Regions from separate parts of the Homo sapiens genome. Here regions 2 and 3 are each linked to region 1. Evidence: fine-mapped expression QTL. A gene starts in region 1. Each other region holds a variant in brackets. All regions are shown on one strand. Distances are from middle to middle.

The links. PIP is the estimated chance that this variant, and not a neighbour inherited with it, causes the effect. A credible set is the group of variants that fine-mapping cannot tell apart.
Region 2: its variant is the best candidate, but not a certain one, in a credible set for the expression of ZFP28 in whole blood (TOPMed, PIP 0.85).
Region 3: its variant is the best candidate, but not a certain one, in a credible set for the expression of ZFP28 in sun-exposed skin (GTEx, PIP 0.78).

The regions. Positions count from the first base shown.
Region 1 is chr19:56,534,932-56,543,114 of GRCh38, forward strand. ZFP28 (ZFP28 zinc finger protein) reads left to right here and starts at 4,017. Exons shown (of 8, transcript NM_020828.2): 1 at 4,017-4,295; 2 at 4,694-4,785. The coding sequence starts at 4,088. ZFP28-DT (ZFP28 divergent transcript) reads right to left here and starts at 3,803. Exons shown (of 3, transcript NR_183967.1): 1 at 3,494-3,803; 2 at 2,720-2,806; 3 at 1,225-1,401.
Region 2 is chr19:56,557,100-56,565,282 of GRCh38, forward strand. All of the region lies in intron 1 of ZNF470-DT (ZNF470 divergent transcript), which reads right to left. Among named protein-coding and RNA genes, the nearest start is that of ZNF470, 6.3 kb to the right of the region's middle. The variant A/C (reference allele first, on the strand shown) is at 4,076.
Region 3 is chr19:56,492,957-56,501,139 of GRCh38, forward strand. ZNF667-AS1 (ZNF667 antisense RNA 1) reads left to right here. Exons shown (of 2, transcript NR_036521.1): 2 at 1,207-2,481. All of the region lies in intron 2 of LOC124904776 (a long non-coding RNA gene), which reads right to left. Among named protein-coding and RNA genes, the nearest start is that of ZNF471, 11 kb to the right of the region's middle. The variant C/T (reference allele first, on the strand shown) is at 3,809.

The sequences.
Region 1 (8,183 bases):
CATTTTCAGGACTACCTATGGAAACCTTTGCTTTCCAGTCTGATGTTGACAGACCATTTTAACCAAAGCTGAATGAAAGTATTTGGGGTTTATAATAATTTTATTCCATCTTCTTATCCAAGTAAGGAAGCTCTCCACCATTCCTAGTTTGCTAAGGCTTTTTCTTTTTAAAATCACAGGTGTGAGCTGCATTTTATCTCAATCATCTATTGAGATGATTCCAGGAACTGTTTCATCCTTATTTATTAATAGTGGTGAATGATATTAACAGGCTCCCCACCGTGGCACTCCTGTGATAACTTCTTGGCAGTATGTACTGTTGGTTACCTGCTTGGCATCCAGTCTCCTTTTTGTCTTTTCTAACAAAACTCAACTTGTGCTCAGGTGTCTCTTCCACCCTCAGATGATTCATCGAAAGCTGACTGAATTCCCAGTGACAGGAGTAGACTGCCCTTCATCTTAGCCAGATATCACAAGGCTATTCCTGAGTGACTAAGGAAAGACTTATGTCCCATGATGTGGTAAGGCCCTATGGACATAAAACATAAAATACCTCTCCAGAGAAAAATATAGAATCAGAAATTATGATTTTATAGAAAATTCATATTTTTAATCAGTAGATTCCTTGGATAACTAAATTCATTGGACTAAGTATTATTTCCCAAATCAAATGTCATTATGTTGTACATTCTGTTTGTTAAACATCTGACACCTAAGCATATGACATCCTTTCTTTGTGCTATAAATTTTATTTTTGCCTATTGTGAGTATATATTACTCTTTATACTGAATTTTTAAAAAAATTAATAAAACAATTTATAAATATGGCAAATGTGAAGATTGGCAGTAGTTCATAAGTTGTATCAGCTTAATCTAAATGATTCAGCCGGGAGATTATTCATCTTTCTTGTTGGTTTCTGTTTTTCAAAAAGCTATAGTTTTGGGTTTATAAAAAAAGCACAGTGTAACTCCTGGTGGTTAAGATGAGATATTTTGTCAACTTCCTGCTGCAGGAGAACTTAATAATGAAATTATTCTTATAGCTCTCTAAAAATTTGGATATATTGAAATATTTTTCTTCATAATTCTTTAGTGTGCTTCTGTTGCTTCTCTGCTAAATATGAACAAGGACGCATATAGCCCCATATAATAGGAAAATAGGATATAGCAGTCATTTGAGGATAAGTGACTGCTACAATAAGATAAAAAAGGTATTGTCAACTCTGTCAATAAAGAAGATAGATTTTATTGCCTTCTCAAGTAACAGCTTCCCATGTAGGTAGGTAGCAGGTCAAGGCAAGAAGACAGCTTTGCTCCATGATGTCATCAAAGGACCTGGTTCCTTCTATGCCATTTCTCCATCAACTCAGGATGCTGTCTTTATCCACATAGGTGATGCCTCTACATTCCAGAACATGAAAGTATTCTGACATATCTTCCTTGGACATGACATATTTTTCTATGTATTGCTGGACTTTGTTTATTGTCACTTTAGGTAGGATTTTAATGTGTATGTTGTCCCTGAAGATTGGAATTCTTTCCCTACTTAAATTCTTTCCCTACTGTCCTTGTCCAGTTTTGGTATCAAGGGTGTCTAGTTTTAAATTCTCCAGTATAGTTTTATAGGATAAGGATTATTTATTGCTTTGGTATTCATGGAAAAGCCTGAGAACTTATTTAATGATTTTCCATTTCTTCTTGAGTCAGTTTTGGTACTTATAATTTTCTCTATGGTAAGCCCCTGCATATGTTTTAAATATATTGAGATAAGGTGATCACAGTATTTGCAAAATTCTAAAAATTTCTGTGATTATGTCCACTTTTTCATTTCTAATACCATTTCTTTGATTGTTTATTTCTCTTTTTTTCTGCTAAGCCATCTTTAGCATAACTTTCATCCTCATGATGCCAAGGTGGCTGTTTGCAGCGGACCCTATCCTTGTTGGACTGAACAAAGGATGACAAACATGGGAATAAAGACAAAGACAAAAGAGTATATTTGGAAGAAGAGGTCTGGGGGCTCCTTGCTTCCAGTGAACACAGGCCCTGAGCCTTTACAGCCCTTCGTATTTATTAGAGTGAATAGGGAGAAGGGGGGTGGTTGTCGGTCAGTAGCTTGATTTACAGCAGGCTTGCAAGACTGCATTCGTCAACCAATAGGCTCTAGATGTCCCATTAGATAACCTCAAGGAGCATGACACCAGGGAGTGATTGCCTTCAGCAAACCTTCTGGTGGCTGGAGCAGAAGCGACTTTGCCCACATTCTGCATTCATGATAAACAGTTTGCTGTTTGATCATATAGCCTCCAGTGGAATGTTGAGTTGGCCACGATCCCTTTGCCAGCTCTCTACAGCTGTTCTACCTGTTGACATCCTGTGTCATACCCAAGCAGGAAGAAGGTTGTGTGAGATGACAAAAGGCCAGAGTTACATGCCAGCTGTGTCTCTTTCCACACATCCACCAAACCCCCAGCAAATGTGTACTTAAAATTCATTGGTTACAGAGCCACTACTCCTTACAAGGAGACTGGGGAGGTGAGTATTATAAGCTGGGCAGATGGCCACTTGAAGAGCATCAATGTTCTGCTGTGGAAGGAGTGCAAAATAGACACCAGAGAGACCATTAGCAGTGTCTGCCACAGCTATTACATGGCTAGGTCCACCTGACTGAAACTAAGCCTTTTCTATGAGACTGAAGTGCTTTGAGAGAAATGCTGACCTTGTCCTTTCTGCAGCTTGCGGCTTTCAGTCACCCTTGGATTCAGAGATAGAAGTCATCTTAATTCCATCACTGAGGCCAGGAGACCTGAAAGAAATCAATTCAAGAGTAAGGAGACCAGGCGTGCAGTGTGACTGGGCGTGCAGAGGTCAGTGCATCTGTGATGACTGGTGTAACAGCATCACTGCCTGTGAGCCAGCAAGGCCCTTGGCTCCCAGGATGAAGCTCTCCAGTTCTGATAAGGCCCCTGGGGGAGAGACCGGTCCTAAACATGTTCAAGAATAAATCCATCAGCTAACTTCAGACCGTGATTCACACAGGAAGGGAACTTTAAGAGGTCGCCAGGGCTGGTATTTTTGAGACGTTAGGCAGCCCTCTCTGAGGCGATGACAAGTGAATGGCATAAAGGAGCCAGCCCAGACGAAAATTTGGGGTTAGACTATTTCGACCCAGGACGTGCAAATACATAGGTTACAAAATGGAAAATGGTATTTTGGAGGATGGGAGGCCCGTGTAGCCAGAGATAATGGGAGAAGGTGAGGGGGCACCCAAAACAATCCCACAAGCTCTCTACATCCCCCTTCCTAGCCCACACACATCACCCATCAGAGTGATCCTCCGGACTCCGGAGGCCCCCAAGATTGCCTTTCCCTTCCCGGTCGGCAGTGACGCTCCCGCAAGGAGCTGACGCCCAGGCCCTTAGCACCTGTCACAGCCAAGCACCCTTTTACTCCGGCCCTGCGGTCCCACCCCTCGCCGCAAGCCCCGCCTCACCCGGTCTGCCGCTGCGCCTGCGCGACTCCCAGAAGCCTTTGGGGGGTGGGTGTGTAGTCAGAGCGGCCTCTGCTTCCGGCCACACCCAGGCCCAGCGTTGGCCACCACTTATGCGGCGGCTGCGGTCCAGGGACAAGTGAGAGCGACCCGCAGAGGGCAGGACGGACGGGCGTTGCATAGGCCCGGGGCCAAACCGTATCTTGCAACCTGAGCTCCGAGGGCCGCCGCATCCGTCCCTGCTTGGGACTACGCTTCCCAGCGGGCATTGCGCCGAGGCCACGCCCGGTTCCGGCGGCGCTGCCTGCGCACTGGAAGTGGGAAGCGCCGGGCTTCTCTAGGCTGAGGGGCGGGGCGGGGCGGGGCGGGGCGGGGCGGGGCGGGGCGGGGCGGGGCGGGGCGGGGCGGGGCAGCGGGGAGGGGTGGGGAGGGGCGGGGCGCGGCCGGGGGCGGGGCGGCTCCGCGGCGCGGCCCAGTGGATGCCGGGCCATGGGGGAGCGCGCGCGGGGCTGTTCGCTGGGCGTGGCGGGCGGGTGTGGCCAGGGGTGTGGGTCTGTGAGGGACCGGTCGGAAGGGCGTCGCGCGGCCTCGGGTGACATGCGGGGGGCGGCGAGCGCGAGTGTCCGCGAGCCGACGCCGCTCCCGGGTAGAGGCGCCCCCCGCACAAAGCCCCGGGCGGGCCGAGGCCCGACTGTAGGGACTCCAGCCACCTTGGCCCTCCCTGCCCGGGGAAGGCCGCGCTCAAGGAATGGCCTCGCATCCAAAGGCCAGCGAGGAGCGGCCCCTACGGGGCCTGGGCACAGAGGTGAGAGTGACAGGTGTTTGGGGCCGAGCGGACAGGGACGAATTCATCTCGGGATGAGATCTGGGAGGGGGTTGGGCTCTCGGGGACCAGTTGCTGGAGAACTGTGCCCCTGGTCTTTGAAGCTGGTGGAGTGGGAGAATCTGAAGATTTGGAAGCTCAACTGATTCAGAGCAGCAAGCCGCGGTAAAAGGGTGTTGACTTTCCCAGGGTGACTCTAACTAGACGCTTTTCCTGTTTTCGTGCTCCCAGGGAGGAAAAAAACCTATCTCCACGTTGTGGCAGTCCCTAGGCAGGGTAATGATCTGATCCCACCTTTTCATGCAGGAAGGGACGTTTCTAGGCTGGTGATTTGGGACTGTGGTGTAGACCTGGTCTCTAGCTACTCCTTTCTCTTTCAGCTCTGCCTTCCAGGGACACTGCTCTTCCCCAGGAGAGAAACAAGAAGCTGGAGGCTGTGGGGACAGGAATTGAACCTAAAGCCATGTCCCAGGTGAGTTGGCATTTCATCTCTTGTCTCTGAAATGCAGTCTTGCTTTTCGGGACTTAATGTTGCTTATTTTCTTGAAAGTTTTCAGTTTAAGAGACCTGTTTGGGCGCGGGTTTCTATTTCTTCACGTTCTAGTGAAGTGATGGGCTACGGGGAAAAGTTTAAACTGCCCGGGGCCTCGATGCCTGCTTCTTCTTCATCCCAATCAGCCTTCATTCTTGATTGATGAAATGATTCAGCCTCTCCCTTGTACCGCTTTTCTCAGAGGGACTCTGATGGAGGAATTGTGCCCCTTGAGGAACACGGCAGACTCTTCTGCTATACATGGTTTGTTTGGTGACCACTTTGTGCCAGCCACTGAGCAAACCAATAGCTAAGCCCTAGTCCCTGCTCTGGAGCTCACAGCCTGTTGACCCAATGTCAAGGAAACAAGCAAGATTCTAGAATGTGATCATCCTTGGGCCAAGTATTATGAGCGAGGACTACAAGGCGCTCCTGGCTTCCAGCCTCCTGTAGCGGAAGGGTAGGCCTATTTACCAAGGAGGTGATTTTTGAGCCTTGCCTTGAAGGGAGAGAAGATGTTTGGGAGGCACAGTAAAGAAAGACAACATTTTAGGGAGAGGAGGCGCAATATGAAAGGCTTTTCCACTTGATTTTGTGGCTTTAAAACATGCCAGTAAATAGTTGTGTTTGTTTCGGTTGGCTTCTCCTATAAATATCATAGCTAGCTCATTAATAGATGAACCATTTCACTTCCACTGAGGCCTCAAAAAATATATGTACAGATGAACCAGCTTCCAGTTGTCCTACCCAAACTGCTCTTGAGTGGGTTACTGTGATCTTCACATTACCAGATGCAGTGCTCAATTCTTAGTCTTTTTTGACTATCATTGGTATTTGAAATAGCTCAGAGGCTGGCAAACTTGTGCTGGATGAGGCCACAGCAGAAAATATGTTAGGCTTTGAAAGTCCTGCTGCATCTACTCCTTTCTGCTCTTATAGAGCTAAAGTAGCCAAAGACAATATGTAAATGAATGGATGGGCTGTGTTCCAGTAAAACTTCAGTTACAAAACAGGTGGCTACCTATCCCTCAAATAGCTCATCCCTGTCCTTCAATAGGCCCCCTTTTTTCCCTTGGCTACTGGGATCTCACACTCATCTGACTTTCATCTTCCTGACTGCTCAGTTTTTGCCACAGTTCTTACCTCCGTGACTTGAACAGAGTGTGCCTCAGCACTCTGCTCATGGCCCTTTCTTTTTTTGTCTGCATGCTGTCTCCTGGGGATAGTAGCCTGTTCCTTGTCTGTACAACCTACCCACATGGTGGCTCCTCCCAGATTCACATTGTGAGCCCAAACCTCTCCTCTGAGCCGCCGGCCTGTGTATCCTGCTCCACTCCTCTGCCTGAGTGTCTGATGGGTAACTCAAGACAGCCTGTCCAGACCCGAAGTCCTGAGAGTCTCCCATAAACCAGCTCCTCCCACAGTTTGAGTCTTAGTCAGTGGCCGTTTCATCCTCTCAGTTACTCAGTCCGGAAGCCTTGTCATGATTGGCTCATTTCTTGCCTTTTCCTTCCATATTTGGTCCTGATGCAAATCCTGTCAGTTCTATTTGCAAATTATGTGCAGAATCTGGCAGTTTTCATCACATCTATCACCAGCAGCAGGTCCAAGTCCTCCTTTTACTGTGGGCTTCTTGACTGTGCTTCTGTGACCTCCTGCTTCTGCTCACGCTCCCCACAGCCCCTTCCCGATGAGCAGCCAGAGGGGTCTATTCAAACATGTCACCTTGTGTCACGCTGTGCTCAGGACCCTCCAGTGGTTTCTCTGAATAAAAGCCAAAACTCTTCCTGTTACTGACCAGGCCCTACATGACCTGGCTCCTTGTTACCCCTGACATCTACATCACTCTCTTCTTTCTGAAAAATCGCCTTCTCATTTTCCTGCTCACCCTGTCTAGAATTTCAGAGCCTCCTACCTGTTCTTCACATCCCTCTTCCCTGCTTTGCTTTTTTCTTTTAGTACTTTTCTTTTGAGACAGAGTTTTGCTCTGTCACTCAGGCTGGAGTACAGTGGCGTGATCTCGGCTCACTGCAACCTCCGCCTCCTGAGTTGAAATGATTCTCCTTCCTCAGCCTCCCGAGTAGCCACCACACCTGGCTAATTTTTTTTTTTTTTTTTTTTTTTTTTTTTTTTAGAGACAGGGTTTCACCATGTTGGCCAGGCTGGTCTCGATTTCCTGACCTCAAGTGATCCGCCCACCTCAGCCTCCCAAAGTGCTGGGATTACAGCCATGAGCCACTGTGCCTGGCCCTCGTAGTACTTTTCAACATACTATATACAGAAATCCCACGTATACCAAAATTTGCACTTATTCATCAGCCATGTGGAGCCTGCAGATATGAGAAGTCAGCCCTCAGTGGACACAGGTTTTCCATACCACAAATAATCTTTTTTGAGACAAGGTCTCACTCTGTCACCCAGGCTGGAGTGCAGTGGTGCCATCACGGCTCACTGCAGCCTTGACCTCCCCAGGCTCAAGCAGTGCTCCCATCTCAGCCTCCGAAGTAGCTGGAATTACAGGCATGTGCCACCATGCCCAGCTAATTTTTGTATTTTTTGTAGAGATGGGGTTTTGCCATGTTTCCCAGGCTGGTCTCGAACTCCTGGCCTCAGGCAACCGCCCGCCTTGGGCTACCAAATTGCTGCGATTAGAGGTGTGATTCCCCGCGCCCAGACAATAATTGTATTTTCAGTCTGCATTTGGTTGAAAAAATTTGCATATAGGTGGACCCTTGCAGCCCAGATCCATGTTGTTCGAAGGTCAAATGTATTTTACTTAATTTATCTCAGTTTCTCTTGTCTCATTTCCTTACTTCATAGGCAAGGATTTGGGGCAGTTTTGCCTAATGTCTGATACAGAAAATATTTGGTGGATGAATGTTTGAATATAGTCTTAAAGTTCTCTTGTGGCCAGTGTTTTGATATTTAGTATAGTGTTAGAATAGTCATTTTTATACCTGAAAATGTGCTTCGTCCCTGATTTTTTTATTTTGTTTTTTTGCTTTTAGAGACAGGGTCTCACTCTGTCACCTAGGCTGGAGTACAGTGGCACAGTCATAGATAATTGCAGCCTCAAACTCCGGGCCTCAAGCAATCCTCCCACCTTGGCTTCCAAAGGAGCTGGAATTGTAGGTGTGAGCCACCATGCCCAGCCCCTGATTATTTTGTATGAATACATTCCTAGAAGTTTTTCTTGCCTCATGGATTAAGGTTTCCTAAGCTTATGTGAAATCGGAATACTTCTAAAATTATTTTTGGATAGAACAGCAGTGGTGCCTCAAAAGCTAGAATTCATGTTTTGAAAAAAATGTACACTTCATCAGGAATAATAGTTATTA
Region 2 (8,183 bases), 22 kb after region 1:
GTAGAGATGGGGTTTCACCATCTTGGCCAGGCTGGTCTTGAACTCCTGACCTCGTGATCCACCCGCCTTGGCCTCCCAAAGTGCTGGGATTACAGGCATGAGCCACCACGCCCGGCCAAGAATTTTTTTTTTTTTAAGAGATGGAGGCCTCACTCTATCATCCAGGCTGGAGTGCAGTGCTAAGATCCTAGCTCACTGTAACCTTAAAATATTTTTTTTGTAGAGACTGTGTCTCGCTTTGTTGCCCAGGCTGGTCTTGGGCTCCTTGCCTCAAGTGATTCTCCTGCCTCACTCTTCCCCAAAATTTTTGAAATAGATTTCTTTGCATATGAGATTTTAGTATATAATGGCACTATTATTTCAATATCGGGAAAATTATGTTTTGACAATTGGTTATCCACCCTCTCCAAGAAAAAAGTTAGAAGCACATTTACACCTTACAGAGAAATATGACTATCATATTTGACATATCTAATCATAAAATAACATGTTAGAGGCAAATGTAGAAAAAAGGAACGTATTATCAAGTAGGACATGGAGTCCTAGAAGCCATAAAGAAATCGAGAACAAGTTGGGCTATGCAACGATCTAAAACTTCAGCATGGTGAAAGGCACCAAAAACTTGTAAAAGACAGTTGAAGGGAAATGTATACAACTTATAGAAAATAACAGAATGCTGTTACATATACAGAGCAGTGGGGAACAACTTGCCATGCACACTGATAGGCGAATCACCCTGAAGAATCCAAATGGATAAAGAAAATTCGTGAAATTCTTAACCTCATTAATCAGAAGAATATGAATGAAACCACATTTTCCTGGCTCTTGGTAGATTACAATATAAAATTTGGATAATATCCAGTAATGGTATTAGTGTGGGAAAACAGGTACTTGATCACTATTAGCAGTGTAACTTCGTCCCCTATCTCCTCGGATGGCATGACCTATCAACATTATAAACGTGAATTTTTTTCAAACAGTAATTCCAGATCTAGGAATTTTATCCCATTGGAATAAATAGGTAGATATAAATATTGTTTTCTTGTAGAATTGTTTCAATTATGACAAATAAGAATTCAGCGCCCTGCCAAGTGGATTGACTAAATTGTAGTTATTCAGTACTGTGTTGTGCGATTAGTAGAAAGCAGTTAAGCTCTACATACACTTCTATGGAGTGGCGTCTACAACATATTTAATGAAATATGTGGTTTACAGAACCTTACAGGTAAAATGACCTAGTCATAGAGTCAAAATTAATACTGAATATATATGTGTGTATGTACATACAAACACATGCACAGCCTCAGTATCTATGTTGAAATCTGGTTTTGTCTTTAACACACAGACTTTTCCTAGCATTTTGCGGGCACTTTCCCTTTCTTCATTCTGTATTGTTCTGATGAACTGTCAGTGACACATGCTCCAAGTAAGACAACCAGATTCATTCTCTGTATTTTGATTAGAGACACAGGGACAGGAACAGGGCCAATATTCAGCTTTATGAACCAGTATGGCCAGAATGGATGTTTTGTTTTAGTCAATATTCATTTTGATTGGTGGGACCTTTATTATACCTGCTGTGAAGTATGTGGGATATGACTCCTAGGCTGGAATTCGTTTGAATTAAGTCATCCTTTGGCAGCAACCTAAGGATTCCTCCACCTGTCACTGAGATCCATTGAGATGATTCCTGCTTTCTCACATCTTGGTTTTGAGTTAAATTCTTTGAGTCTGTGAACTACCTGGTATTCTAATATTTCTCATTTTAAGTCAGAGTCAAATACTTTGGTTCTCAAGCAAAGAGAGCTAGCCAATGCAGAAATTTATACTACAGAATGATTACTAGACTGTAGAGAAGCAGAGTATTCAAGATGGATGTCCAGTGAGACAGATCAAAGCACAGATGAATTCCTAATCCTATTTTGTGCTGTGAAAGGATATTCATGATATAGCAGGATCCTAAGCCCATTGTGCACTAGGGTCTGGATAGCTCCTACCAAAAACAAAGGTATTGAGGAATACTACTTCCAAAAGTATATATGATACCTGTTTATAATGAAATTGGGTAATTAAAATTTCAAGGCTACTTGAAATTCTGGCCTTAAGGAATTGAATCAGTACCTGTATGTCTGTGTTGGGAAGAATCTCATACTCCTTTTAAGCATGGGGCTGTATTTGCTAAAAAAGGCAGCAGTAGATGCAGTTATTTGCTCAACAATGATGCTTACTGAATGAAGGGGTGGCCTGCCCCTCCACACCTGTGGGCGTTTTTCCTTGGGTGGGACGAGAGACTGAGAAAAGAAAGAGACACAGAGACAAAGTATAGAGAAAGAAAAGTGGGCCCAGGGGACCAGCACTCAGCATACGGAGGACCCACGCCTGCACCGGTCTCTGAGTTCCCTCAGTATTTATTGATCATTATCTCTACCATCTCAGAGAGGGGGATGTGGCAGGACAATAGGGTAATAGTGGGGAGAGGGTCAGCAGGAAAACGTGAACAAATGTCTCTGTGTCATAAACAAGGTTAGAAAATGTGCTGTGCTTTGATATGCACATACACAAACATATCTGGTGCATTAAACAGCAGTATTGCCGCCAGCATGTCTCACCCCCAGCCTTAAGGCGGTTTTCTCCTATCTCAGTAGATGGAACACACAATCGGGTTTTACACCAAGACATTCCATTCCCCAGGGACGAGCAGGAGACAGATGCCTTCCTCTTAACTACAAAGAGGCCTTCCTCTTTTAATAATCCTCCTCAGCACAGACCCTTTACCGGTGTCGGGCTCAGGGACGGTCAGGTCTTTCCCTTCCCACAAGGCCATATTTCAGACTATCACATGGGGAGAAACCTTGGACAATATCTGGCTTTCCTAGGCAGAGGTCCCTGCAGCCTTCTGCAGTGTTTTGTGTCCCTGGGTACTTGAGATTAGGGAGTGGTGATGACTTTTAACAAGCATGCTGCCTTCAAGCACTTGTTTAACAAAGCACATCCTGCATAGCCCTAAATCCATTAAACCTTGAGTCGACACAGCACGTGTTTCTGCCAGCACAGGGTTGGGGGTAGGGTTACAGATTAACAGCATCTCAAGGCAGAATTTTTCTTAGTACAGAACAAAATGGAGTCTCTTATGTCTACTTCTTTCTACATAGACACAGTAACAGTCTGACCTCTCTTTTCCCCACACTGAATTCACAACCGTGTCACTTCTGTTAAGCAATTAGGGAAATACTGGAATTTGGATTATTGGAATGAGACTAACAAGAAGGATTCAAGGATCTTACAAAACTTTGACTCTCCCTTGACTCTCCCTCTCAACCCTTAAGCAACCTCCCCACTGATTCTCCTCTCCATGCTTCCCTTGTGACTGGAAACAAACCTTCCTTCCTTCCTTCTTCCTTTCCCTTTCCTTTCCCCTGCCTTTCTTCTTTTCTTTTCTTTCCTTTTCTTTCTCAGAGTCTTGCTATCCCCCAAGCTGGAGAGCAGTGATGTAATCATGGCTTGCTGCCGCCTTGATCTCCTGGCCTCCAGCGTTCCTCCCACCTCGGCCTCTTCGAGTAGCTGAGACTACAGGCGTGTGCCACCACACCCAGAATTTTTAAATTTTTTGTGGATAGTTGTGCCATGTTGCCCAGGCTGGTCTTGAACTCCTGGGCTCAAGTGATCTGCCTGCCTCGGCCTTCTGAAGTGCTGGGATTACAGGTGTGAGACACCATACCCAGCCTGTGACTGAAAACTTGATTGTCCCTTTTCTCACATGGTCACCATTATTGCTTGGCTGGTAACCAAAATCAGAGCTTAGTATGACCTGTAGTTTGAAATACAGAAAGTTAGGAAAGAGATTAATCTCACCCAGAAATATTTAATTTCCTTCATTAATTGTAACATCTAAAATCTAGGGAACATTGTTGCAAGTGTATTTTCAGGGTTAGAAATTACTTTGCGTAATATAGATGGACTGAAAGAATTCAGAAGTTTATAATGCTGGATTGGATCATTTATGTCCATGCCCTTCACTCATCTGCAAGTTCCCATCAGGGCCCAATAGCCTTTCCATATTCCTTTGACATGAAAG[A/C]AGCACTGAAAAATGTCCCTATATCTCCACCTTTAGGTGCAGAGACTTTTCATGAGTGATTACATTTGAAAAGGGTATCCGATTTGTGTAGAACTGTGGCATGTGTAGTGGCTGGATTATAGGGCAATCATTAACTATGAGAAGAAAGTAAAAAGGTTATAACAAACCTCAGAACTCTAGAGTGTTCTGATTTCTGATATTTCCACTGTAATTAATAATTGATCCCCAGCGTTGAAACTGCACTAAGGTTTTATTTTAATTAAAAACACTCCATGGCATGGCATCCAAATCTCACATTGACTTAAATCAGTGGCACAGGACTGGGTCATTCAGGAGTCTGAATGACTGTAATTAAAATTTCTATGAACAATTCCATGGGAATTCGAAAAAGACTTGCATTTATGCAGAGTGAGGGCTTATGGAAGAATTCTTATACAAGCGTAGCTTAGAACAAGGTCTATTGAGACCACAAATGCATACTGTGGCTATTTTTCCAGGTCCTGGGTGTGCATTTGTTAATGATATCTATGATATGAGATGTGACTAGATGACCACCAAAAGTTTGTGTTCTTTTCTATTGTCTGGAATTGATCCTGGGATGTGTCTGCCCAGGCACCTTTGCTTCCAGTTTTGTCTATCAGATGAATTTTCTTCAGTGTGGTGTGAATAGAAGCAATATGGCACTCAGGGCTTGGTTTTTAAGAAAAGGATGTTCTGTCCAGACGGAAGTAGAATCTTAATCATATGGAATGGCAAAGCTGAAAGATAGAACTCTGTGTCCCTAAACCACTATTTGGAGGAAAGCTCCCCAGTCATCAAGGAACACCAGCAATGGATTATTATATGAGTGAGAAATAAACTTATATTGTGTTAAGGTAATGATATTTGGATTTCAATTGTAATAGCAGCTACTATAATTCTAATCAATATAATACCTTTGACTAATGATAGAATTCCTATTTTCCCTGAGTTATAGAGTAGGAACTGTGATGGCGTGTTAGTTGCCTGTTGTTGTAACAAATTATCCCCAAACCTTAGTGGCTGAAAACAGATAGACGTTCATTACCTCAGTTTCTTTGGGGAAGGAATCTAGGCACAGCTTAGTTGGGTGCCTCTGGCTCAAGGTCTCTCAGATGGCTACAGTCTTAGCTGTGGGCCAGTGCTGCAGTCATCTGAAGATTTTGTTAGAGGATAATCAGCTTTCAAGCTCAAGTAAGTGGGCAGGACTCAGTTCCCTACAGGCTTTGGCTGGACATGTTGGTTCCTTTCCATGTGGGCCTCTCTGTAGGGCAGCTTACAATATGGCAAGTGGCTTCCTTGAAAAGTGAGTGAGCAGGAGAGGATGCCCAAGATAGAAGATGAAGTCCTTTTGTAACCTAATATTAGAAGTGATATCCCCTCATCTTTGTATTTGGTTAATTAGGAGTCACTAGGTTTAGCCTACCTTCAAGGGGAGGGGATTACAAAATAGTTTGAGTAAGAGGAGGTGGGGAACTTTGAGAGACATCGTAATGGCTGTCCACCACAGTCTTCCTCCGTCCCCACCTCCCAGTGATTCATTTCCCTTCCAGATGCAGAATACACTCACTCCTTCCAAGGCCCCTCTCAGAGTCTCACCTCATTACAGGATCACCTCAAAGTCAATAATCTTGTCATCTAACATAGGTACAGGTGCTAATGAAGCCCATAAGATATACTTTCTTAAGTATGGGTATTGATCTGCAGACCTTTAGACTTAAAGAAAATAAAGAACAAGTTATCTGTCTCCCCTCCTCCACCACCCCTAACCGATACAGTGGAATCACTGCTCCATAGCAATTCTGAAATCTAACCAGACAAATGTTTGGAAATTCCTTTATTAGGTCACATGGCCTGGGATAATTATCCACCATCTGAACTCTTGGTTCTGCCCTCTGAATCCTTTTTTCCTGCAACGCATTTGCAGTTCAATAGCTTTTTTTTTATTATTATACTTTAAGTTTTAGGGTATATGTGCACAACGTGCAGGTTAGTTACATATGTATACATGTGCCATATTGGTGTGCTGCACCCAGTAACTCGTCATTTAACATTAGGTATCTCTCCAAATGCTATCAATAGCTTTCTTAGCTTGCTTACTAGAGTTTTAGGAATCTAGTGGCGTCTCTTCATTTTGTGCTGTCTCTGTCCCTCTCACTCCAGTTGGCAGAGTTTCTACTGAGTCTTCTGAAAATGTTGTGGGCTTCATGAGAACCTCATTGGGGTTCACTGCACAAGACAAAAGCCACAGCCACAAATCTCTTTGAGATAAGCTTCTTAGAGGCCTAATTATTTGAATAAGAGTGTCTGTCAGGTCGCCTTAATCTCTTTACAGAGCTTTTGTGTGGTTAAATAGTACTGAGATACCAGCTTTGGTCTTTCTGAGGTTCTGGATTTTACAGCCATGCCCTTAGTTTTTATCTAGACCAGTTTTCCTAGCAGTAACTTGGATTTCATTTTTGCTTGGAAGCCCTTTCTTGTTTTTGGCATTGTTTGCCACCTACAGAGGCTAAGAATTTTCAAAATCCTAATGTCCTCTTTGTTAACAGTTATTCCCTCAATTTATATCTCTTCTTTTGCATGTTTCTGTAAGCAGCAAGAAAACAACAGCAACAGGACATTCAGCACATTCCTTGAAAATCTTAGCTACGTCACCCAGTTCTTCTTCCTGCATTAGCTGCAAATAACAGGCTGCTAAACTTTCTGCCATTACATAACAAGGACCCTCTTTCCTCCAGTTTTTAATGGAGTATTTCTCACTATCCTTTTAGCCTTCACCAGCACTTAAGACCCAAAATTTCTGGACAGTCCCTTTTCTATACAAGTATTGGACAAACTCCAAGCATCCCAACAAAGGCTTTAGCATTACCTGTCTCAGTGAGACAAGAGTTGGAGATTGAGTTCAACACAGTGAACTGCCTACTAAAAACAAAATTCAGACGGACTTTTTGTCTGTAGAGACAACAGAGTCTCTACAGTGTGTTACTCATAGAGTAAGAATTATTAGATATGTGAAAACATAAGCCACATTCAAGAGAAGAAAGCAATACAAATCCTTAAACACTGGTATTAGCAAACAAGAATGATAAAGCCCCTATTATAATTATTCTGAATGACATAAAGGAAAATGCTATTAATGGATGAGCAGATGGGAATTTCAGCAAATGAGTAAATCAGTTTGAAAATGGGAATTCTAAAACTAAGAAATACAATGTTTGAAAGTAAAAATCCACTGGATAGGTTTAACAGGAAATTTGAGGTGGCAGAATAGTTAATGAAGTTGAATATAGATAGAAATTATTTAATCTGAAACAAAAAGGATTGAAAGAAATTAAAAGGACTGAATAGTGCTGGTGATAATGTCAAAAGGTGACTTGTGATAATGCTTTGTGTTCTCTGATCTTCCTAGATCTGTGGTTTGGTGTTTGTTTTCTTGCTTTTAGAGACAAGGTCTTGCTTTGTTGCCCAGGAGGGAGTGCAGTGGCAGGATAATGGCTTGCTCAAGCAATCCTCCCACCTCAGCTTCTCGAGTAGTTGGGACTACAATTACACAGCACCACACCCGGCTAATTTTTGTATTTTTTTAAAGATGGGGTCTCACTATGTTGCCCAGGCTGGTCTCAATCTCCTGGGCTCAAGCAATCCTCCCACTTTGGCCCCCCAAAGTGCTGGTATGTATCACAGGCATGAGCCACCACACTGGCCTGGTGTCCTGTCATTAATTTTAGAAAATTCTCAGTCATTATTCAAATATTTTCTCTCCTTTCTCTCTTCCCCTCCTGGTATTCCAGTTACGCATATATTTCACCTTCTGTAATTGTCCCATGGTTCTTGGATATTCTGTTCTTTTTCTTTTTTCATTCTTTTTTTTTCCTCTTTGTATTTCAGTTTGGGAAATTTCTATTAACATATCTTCAAGCTCACCCATTCATTTCTCAGAGTGTCTTAGTCTGAGGGGCTCACTAAAGGTAATCTTCATGTCTGTTACAATGGTTTTCAATTGCTAGGATTTCCTTTTGATTCCTTCTTACAGTTTGCATCTCTCTGCTTACATTACCCATCTGTTCTTGCATGTTGTCTACTTTTTCCA
Region 3 (8,183 bases), 42 kb before region 1:
GAGTGCAGTGCCGTGATCTCGGCTCACTGCAACCTCTGCCTCCCAGGTTCAAGCGATTCTCCTGCCTCAACCTCCCGGGTAGCTGGGATTACAGGCATGTGCCACCATGCCCTGCTAATTTTTGTATTTTTCATAGAGATGGGGTTTCATCATGTTGGCCAGGCTGGTCTCAAACTCCTGACCTCAGGTGATCTGCCCACCTTGGCCTCCCAAAGTACTGGGATTACAGGTGTGAGCCATCACACCTGGCCTATAATATCTTGATAATACTGCTACTACCACATCACCTAAGATGCTTCAAGGGAGTTTCATACAGTTTTGATGGTTTTAATGCCATATGATTTAAACTATAATCTATGATGAGTACACATTCACATTTTATAGCACAGGGTCACTCAATGCTAGAGGTTTTATGTAGAGCTCCTGAAATGATGCATCTGAGTCCTTTCAGCTGGGAAAGACATGGTCTGAATAGGTAATATCATGGTTAGAAAAACCCAATTGGGTTTCACATGTGAGTACCAAACCTATATTTCCTCTCAAATAGAGGTACTGGCTTATAATTGAGGTGCTTCCCACATGGGCTTGTCAACATTGGGTGCCTCTGTGTTGAGGGTGCAGCCAGGATTTATAAAACTGAAGACTGAATATTCTCTGGGGCAATACCAGGCAGATTCTCTTGTATATGACATTGTAGCTTAGAACAAGATTTTCTAATCTGCTTACTTTACTGAATCACATTTTAAGTTTGTTTCTAAAACAAAGATATTGAGGGCAGTCAGAAAAGTAGTCCACATGGACATTCTTTTTTTTTTTTTTTTGAGACGGAGTCTCACTCTGTTATGCAGGCTGGAGTGCAGTGGCGCAATCTCGGCTCACTGCAACCTCCGCCTTCTGGGTTCAAGCGATTCTCCTGCCTCAGCCCACCAAGTAGCTGTGCCACCACACCCGGCTAATTTTTTTGTATTTTTAGTAGAAATGGGGTTTTACCATGCTAGCCAGGATGGTCTCGATCTCCTGACCTCGTGATCTGCACACCTCGGCCTCCCAAAGTGCTGGGATTACAGGCGTGAGCACCATGCCTGGTGGACATTCCATTATTAACTCACCTTGGCCTTGGAATTAATGACTTGGAGAAGACCTGAATGGGGAGGGGAGAGCAGTAGAAGCATGAGCCTTTCTGACTGTCTACATGTTCTTGCCCAGTTTTAACTTCTAGTCATGGCGAATGATCGCAGGAGAGCACAGACTGGACCCTGCTACGATCTCTCTTGGAGTGGATCAGACTGATGATCACCAACAACCAACTCATTCCCGGATAAGGAAGAAGAGAGTGTCACCTACTTCAGTGTGGTTTCAACCCTACTTCTGCATCTTAAAGACACTGTATGGTTTCAGCAGTAGTGCCCCTGTTCATTAGTCCCCCTGATGTTTTCATTCCTCATCTCATCTTTTTCTTAGCAGCATTCAATGAATCCTTCATTCTAGAAACACTCTATATCTTTGGTTTTCATGAGACCATTCTCACCTTGTTTTGTCCTGTGACTTTTTTGAAAAAAACAAAAACAAAAAACCCTTTTTTTCTTTTTAAATTCTGGTAAAAAACACAATGAAAATTTGCTATCTTAACCATGTTGAAATGTGCAGTTAGTAAAGTACATTCACATTGTGGTGCAAGCCATCACTACCATCCATCACTAGAACCCTTTTCATCTTGCAGATCTGAAACTCTACCCATTAAACGACTTCCCATCTTCCCATCCCCACAGCTCCTAGCAACCAACATTCTACTTTCTCTATCAGTTTGACTACTCTAGGTACCTCATATGAGTAGAATCATACAGCATTTATCCTTCTCTGCCTGGCTTATTTCACTTGTATAATGTCCTCAAGGTTCATTCATGTTGTAGCATGCATCAGAACTTCCTCCCCTTTTAAAGGCTGGATAATATTTCATGGTATGTTTAGATCACATTCTGTTTATCCATTCATCCATCAGTGAACACTTGTGCTCCTTCCAACTTTGGGCTGTTGGGTGTCCTGCCACTGTTGCTCCTAGTGCTCAATCTCGTTTATTCCCTCCTAATCAAGTGTACAACGTTGGACACTGTGCAGGATGATGCCACTTCATCTTGGATGCTAATCTGCCATGTTGACTTCTGATTAACCCCAGGCCCAGGAATGCCTCAAGATTTCTACTTTACTTACTGTTGCTTGTGTAAGCCAAGACAACCTTGATGTTATCATAAACATGTACTTACCTAAGTCCTGTCCTTTGGCAAATTATGGGCTATGAGACACAGCATTCTTGCCTTTCCCTGAGGGGTCAATTTCAGCGATCCTACACATTCCTTCTGAAGCACTTATGCTCTTTCTATATGGTATGTAAGCTCTCGGTCTGGGGAGTAACAGTGCAGAGATCTACCTGTCTTGTTGCCACATGTTTCTAAACTTTCCAATAAATCACCTTCTACTGACAAACTGGATTTGTCTTCCTTATTCTTTGGTTTCTTGGTTCCTTTTTGGTATGGATTTGCTTTCCCTATGTGGTTCTTTCATGAAACTGTTGGTGAGCTAGCCAGGAGGAATTCAGGAGCCAAAGTATGGGCAAGGGAAGGAAGCCTCAGTTGGGGAAGTCTTGGGGCAGCCCTCTGTGTGTGTGGGGTGATATTGCCCGTTTGCTGGATGCCTGCAGACCACCGCCTGAGTACGGGGATGGCCCAGAACACTACAGGGTCTAGAGTGCTTGTGAGAAGAAAACCACACCATGCACTGAAGGTCCCTGAAGGTGGCAACAGAGGGGTGGCCGCTATTATGGGTTGCACATGTGACCCCAGAAGTACAGTTAGCAACCGAGACAAAGGTACAGAAGCTAGAGAAGTAATTACAGTTAGAGAAGGATATGAGGATCTCCACATCTGTGTTAGCATCTAATTTGGTGCATAAGCTTGAAACTCAGGAGGTGCAGGTGGAAACTGTTGTCTGCCGCTTTTATGCAGCTGCGAGGACAAAAACTGCACTGGTTGCAAGTGTGAGCTGTCCTTGCTAGACCAGACCAAGATGCTGAGACCTGGAATCCTTGGGAATCGACTTGTGAGTCAGATGAAGACAGAGGTTATCTCAGAGTAGGAGGATTGTCCTCCCCTTTTGAGGGCAGGAGGAAAACAAAACCCAACAGATACAGCTGTACAATAGCAAGCAGTCTTTTCACAGCAAAGCTTAACTCTGAGAGTACACCTCAGCAGAACTATTGGACACAGCAAGAACTCTTAAAGCAGCTGCCAAGAGACAGCATAGCCACATGGATGGTGGTGTGGCTATGCGAGAGGCCCAGTGAAGGGGACTTCCCAGGTCAGACACTGGCATGGTGGTCTCTGGAGGAGGCACAGAGCAATTCAGGGGAGCTGGGTATGCAGCAGGCCATCTATGACCAGCAGTTGCAGTTGTCCCCTTGTAGGACAAGATGTATATTATGTGCGGGATGCCGTAGCTGGTCTTGGAGAAACTGAAAGGGGAAGGGATAAGGTCCAACTGGTTACCAAGGGAAAAGAAAAGGAGATAGCAAGTCTGTTGGACTTGAAAAAGGAGGTCTAAAAGACCCAGTTAGGATTACCAGAAAACAAATGTGGTACAATCTGATCTCAGCTGGGATAAACCAAGAAACGGAATCAGCAACCTCATGCCATGTTGGTGGGCATTTGAAAGGACTTAACTCCCGCCCAACTGTTTAGACCTTTTCCCAGCATCCGGCCAGAAAAGGAGGATGGAGGAGATGAAACTATGTATTAAAAAAGAACTCCGGTCTCTG[C/T]TCCAGCCTTGGACTCCTATCCAGCCTACAGACTGCGGGGCGGGGGGCGGGGGTGGGAGGGGGCGGAAGGGGGGCAAGGTTGCCTCTAGGGATGAGCAGTAGAGGGTGACTAGAGGCTCCATGTGGAGCTCACAATATCAGAGTTGAAAAACACATGCAGAGGACACTAGTTGTAGTGGACACAGGTGCAGAGTGCACCTTAGTTCTTGGAAGCCCAGAGAGACACGCTGGTAAGTGGACAGCTCTAGATGGTTACTGGGGACAAACAATCCAAGTGGAACAAACTCCTCCCCTTCTTGGTATTGGATGGTGGAGTTTCCCTGCTTACTATACTGTCTTTATCTCACCTATTCCAGAAAACATGTTGGATATGGACATCCTTTAAGGATGCACTTTGCAAACGTCCATGGGGGAATTCCACCAATGAGTTTGGGTGGTAAACACTATTTAAAGAGTGGCAGTGAAATAGGCACCTGTACTTTTTCCTCCCCCATGATGTATCATCAGTGTGAAGTAACAAATTATTTTCTTGGCAGAATAAAAGAAATGACAGCCACCATAGAGGAACTAGCCAAAGTTAATATTAGTCGGCCAGCCCAGAGTCCCTTCAGGAGTTCTGTGTGACTGGGAAAGGAAATCTGACAGCACCGGGCACGTGACAGTAGACTACAGGGAATTCAATAAGGTATTTGCTGACATATACCCTGTTGTGCCTAATATCATCTAAGTGATAGAACAACTATACAAACTATAGGTACTTATCATCTGTATTAGATTTAGCCAATGCCTTTTTTTTTTTTCTTGAGAAAAGGTCTTGCTCTGTCACTCAGGCTGGAGTGCAGTAGCACCATCATAGCTCACTGCAGCCTTGACCTCCTGGGCTCAAGCGATCCTTCAGCTGCAGCCTCCTGAGTAGCTGGGACTACTCAGGAGGTGTGCCATCAAGGTGCGCCACCAAGCCCAGCTAACTTTTCTTATTTTCTGCAGAGATGAGAAAATAAAGAGACCAGGCTGATCTTAAACTCTTGACCTCAAGTGATCCTCCCACCTCAGCCTCCTAAAGTGCTGAGATTACAGGCACATACTAGATTTGTCTACCTCATTCTTTGGTTTCTTGACTCCTGTGTTGGGGAATGCTTTGCATATACAGCCCTTTCACAAAAGAGACCCCACAAAACAATTGATCTCATTCTGTACATCCAGCTAAAATCACATGTGTACTAGCTGATAAGGCAGAACAAAAGTAATTAAGAGGTTTTATTTACTTAAATATATAGTGAGTCAAAGAAATGTGGATGAGCATTGATTTGAAGGCTATTTATAGATCATGAAGGTAAGCCTGGTGTTCACCCATGTTGAGGGTGTATCTTCCCCACTCAGTCCACTGATTTATAAGCCAATCTCCTCTGGTAATACCCTGAAGACACAGCCAGAAGTAATGTTTACCAGTTACATACATATTCCTTAATCCATTCAAGTTAATACCTGAAATTAACCATCACATCAACCCATGTTCTATGGTACAAAGCACTGTGGATGCATTATCTGTTTACACAAGGAAACTATAGGCTCAAACAGGCTTAATCAGTTTCTAAACTGACCCTTTAATTTAGTGGGATATGTTGAATCAAGGACATAGTGATGCATGCTACAATCTAGATGCGCCTTGAAGACATTATGCTAAGTAAAAAAAAAAAAAAATCAGACACAAAACACCACATATTGTGATCTCATTTGTATGAAATGTCCCGAGTAGGCAAATAGATAAACAGAGGAATTAGATTGGTGGTTGCCAAGGACTGGCGAGAGAAGAGAATAAAAAGTAATGGCTAGTGGGTAGGATTTCTTTAGTCGTTAAAGTATTCTCAACTATTGTGGTGGCTGTTGCATAACTCTGATTATAACAAGGCCACTGAATTTTATACTGTGAAAAATAGGCTAGGCGCGGTGGCTCACGCCTGTAATCCCAGCACTTTGCGAGGCCGAGATGAGCAGACCACGAAGTCAGGAGATTGAGGCCACCATGGCTAACACAGTGAAACTCTGTCTCTACTAAAAATACAAAAAAATTAGCTGGGCGTGGTGGCACACTCCTGTAGTCCCAGCTACTTAGGAGGCTGAGGCAGGAGAATGGCTTGAACCCGGGAGGCAGAGGTTGCAGTGAGCCAAGATCGTGCCACTGCACTCCAGCCTGGGCGACAGAGCGCGACTACATCTCAAAAAATAATAATAATAATAAAGTAAAATAAAATAAATAAAAAATAGCCGGGCACAGTGGCTCACACCTGTAATCCCAGCACTTTGGGAGGCCGAGGCAGGTGGATCACGAGATCAAGAGATAGACCGTCCTGGCCAACATGGTGAAACCCCATCTCTACTAAAAATACAAAAATTAGCCAGGTGTGGTGGCAGGTGCCTGTAGTCCCAGCTACTAGGGAGGCTGAGGCAGGAGAATTGCTTAAACTGGGGAGGCGGAGGTTTCAGGGAGCTGAGATTGTGCCACTGCACTCCAGCCTGGGCGACAGAGGGAGACTCTGTCTCAAAAAAAAAAAAAAAAAAAAAAAAAAAAGAACTAGACTTTTATGCTATGCTATGAGGACTAAGCTCTGATATTTTTATGTTGCCCAAATTCCTACCTAAGGGGTCTAAGGAGTCATGCCCTACAAACTATAAATTCTCATCAGATGGGTTTTGTCTGGCCCTACGCATCACGAGTTACTTTTCAGTATAACTCTGGCATAACATTATGAGACCAGGAAAAAAATATTTAACCCCAAAATATATTTCCTTGCCATACCTTGAAACTGCCCTGCTAAGTCTCTTTTGGGAAAAATCCACATCCTATAGAGAATCTCCTTTCCCCCTTGTTTTCCTTCATTTCTTTCCAGATCCAGGAGATAATCAACTAAGAGCCAGGTACCCTTTTGGGCTTGATAAGAAACATTTTACAACCTGCTCTCTCTCTCAAGTCTGCTGAGAACTTCCTCTGCACAATAAAATTTGGCCTCCACAATCCTTTATGTTATCCTGAACATTCCTTTCTATTGATCCCAGGTGTTCAGATAAACTCAACCAATTGTCAACCAGAAAATGTTTAAATTTACCTATAGCCTGGAAGCCACCACTCTGAATTGTCCTGCCTTTCTGAACCTAAACAATGTATTTCCTAAATGTATTTGATTGATGTCTCATGCATCCCTAAAAATCTATGAAACCAAGCTGTACCTCAACCACCTTGGGCACATGTTCTCAAGACTTCCTGAGGGCGGTGTCACGGGCCATGGTCACTCATATTTGGCTCAGAATAAATCTCTTAAAATATTTTACAGAGTTTGACTCTTCGTCAACAATAATCTGGCGCCCAAACGTGGGGCCTCAGAGAAGACTCAGGACCCCTAAGGAGTTGCCTGAAACCGGAGCTAAGGTACCAGCAGGGGCCCATTGAAGTCCCACTGAGTTCAAGCTTCTCCTCCGGTGGAACTGGTAAGTCCTCCTGAGCCCCAGACCTCTCCTTGACCAGACTTTTCTTAGGCTTCCCTGAGCCCTCTTCTTGAGTAGGCCTGGACCTTGGATTTCTGTGTCCATCCTTGCTGCACCCAGTTTTAGCAAGAATCCTGTTAAGTAGGTTTAGTGAGAATTCCCTTATCCTTGATCAGGTTCCTCATCTTCCACCCTTAATGTCTAAGTCCTTGGCCTGCCTTTAGCAGGATTCTACCCTTAATACCTAATCAAGTTCCTGTTTGTGATTTCCCACCCATTGACCCCCTTACTCTTATAGTTGGCTACAAAACCAACTGTTGTTGCTATATTGGGGAGTTGAGTTCACTGTCTCTCCCCCATTGCAATTGTCTTGAACAGTATTACTTACCGTTTACACACGTGTATTCTTTTCCTGTTTCCCTCATTTGCATGAGAAATGGAATTCTGCCTTTACAGCCTTGATACAGAGCAGTGGGTGTTGTGTGAGATACAGTATTGAAGATGAGTCTCACCTCTGTCTGTGATGAAATAGATTGTGAATTGTGAAGAGAATGCAGGTAGCAATGTAGGAGCTAAACTTAAGTGTCCTCTAATTTAGAGTCAATGACTTTGTCGTTTCTGCTGTGAATCTGGCTACTCTCTGCTATGCCAGAAAATGATGTACTTAACTGCAGCAAACACGTATCTTTAGTTTATCCTCCACTCACACAAACCTTTGGGACAGCACATGTTATCAGGAGTTTTCCCCCTCACATCTGTACTCTCTTCAGATGAATGTGGCTGGAGGGTCATGTCCCGAGGAATCTTATTACTTAGATATTATTGATTTTTGCAGAGTGGGGCATCTGACGTATGCACACCAGTGCCTCTTCTCTTGACATTTTTGCTCTTTGTA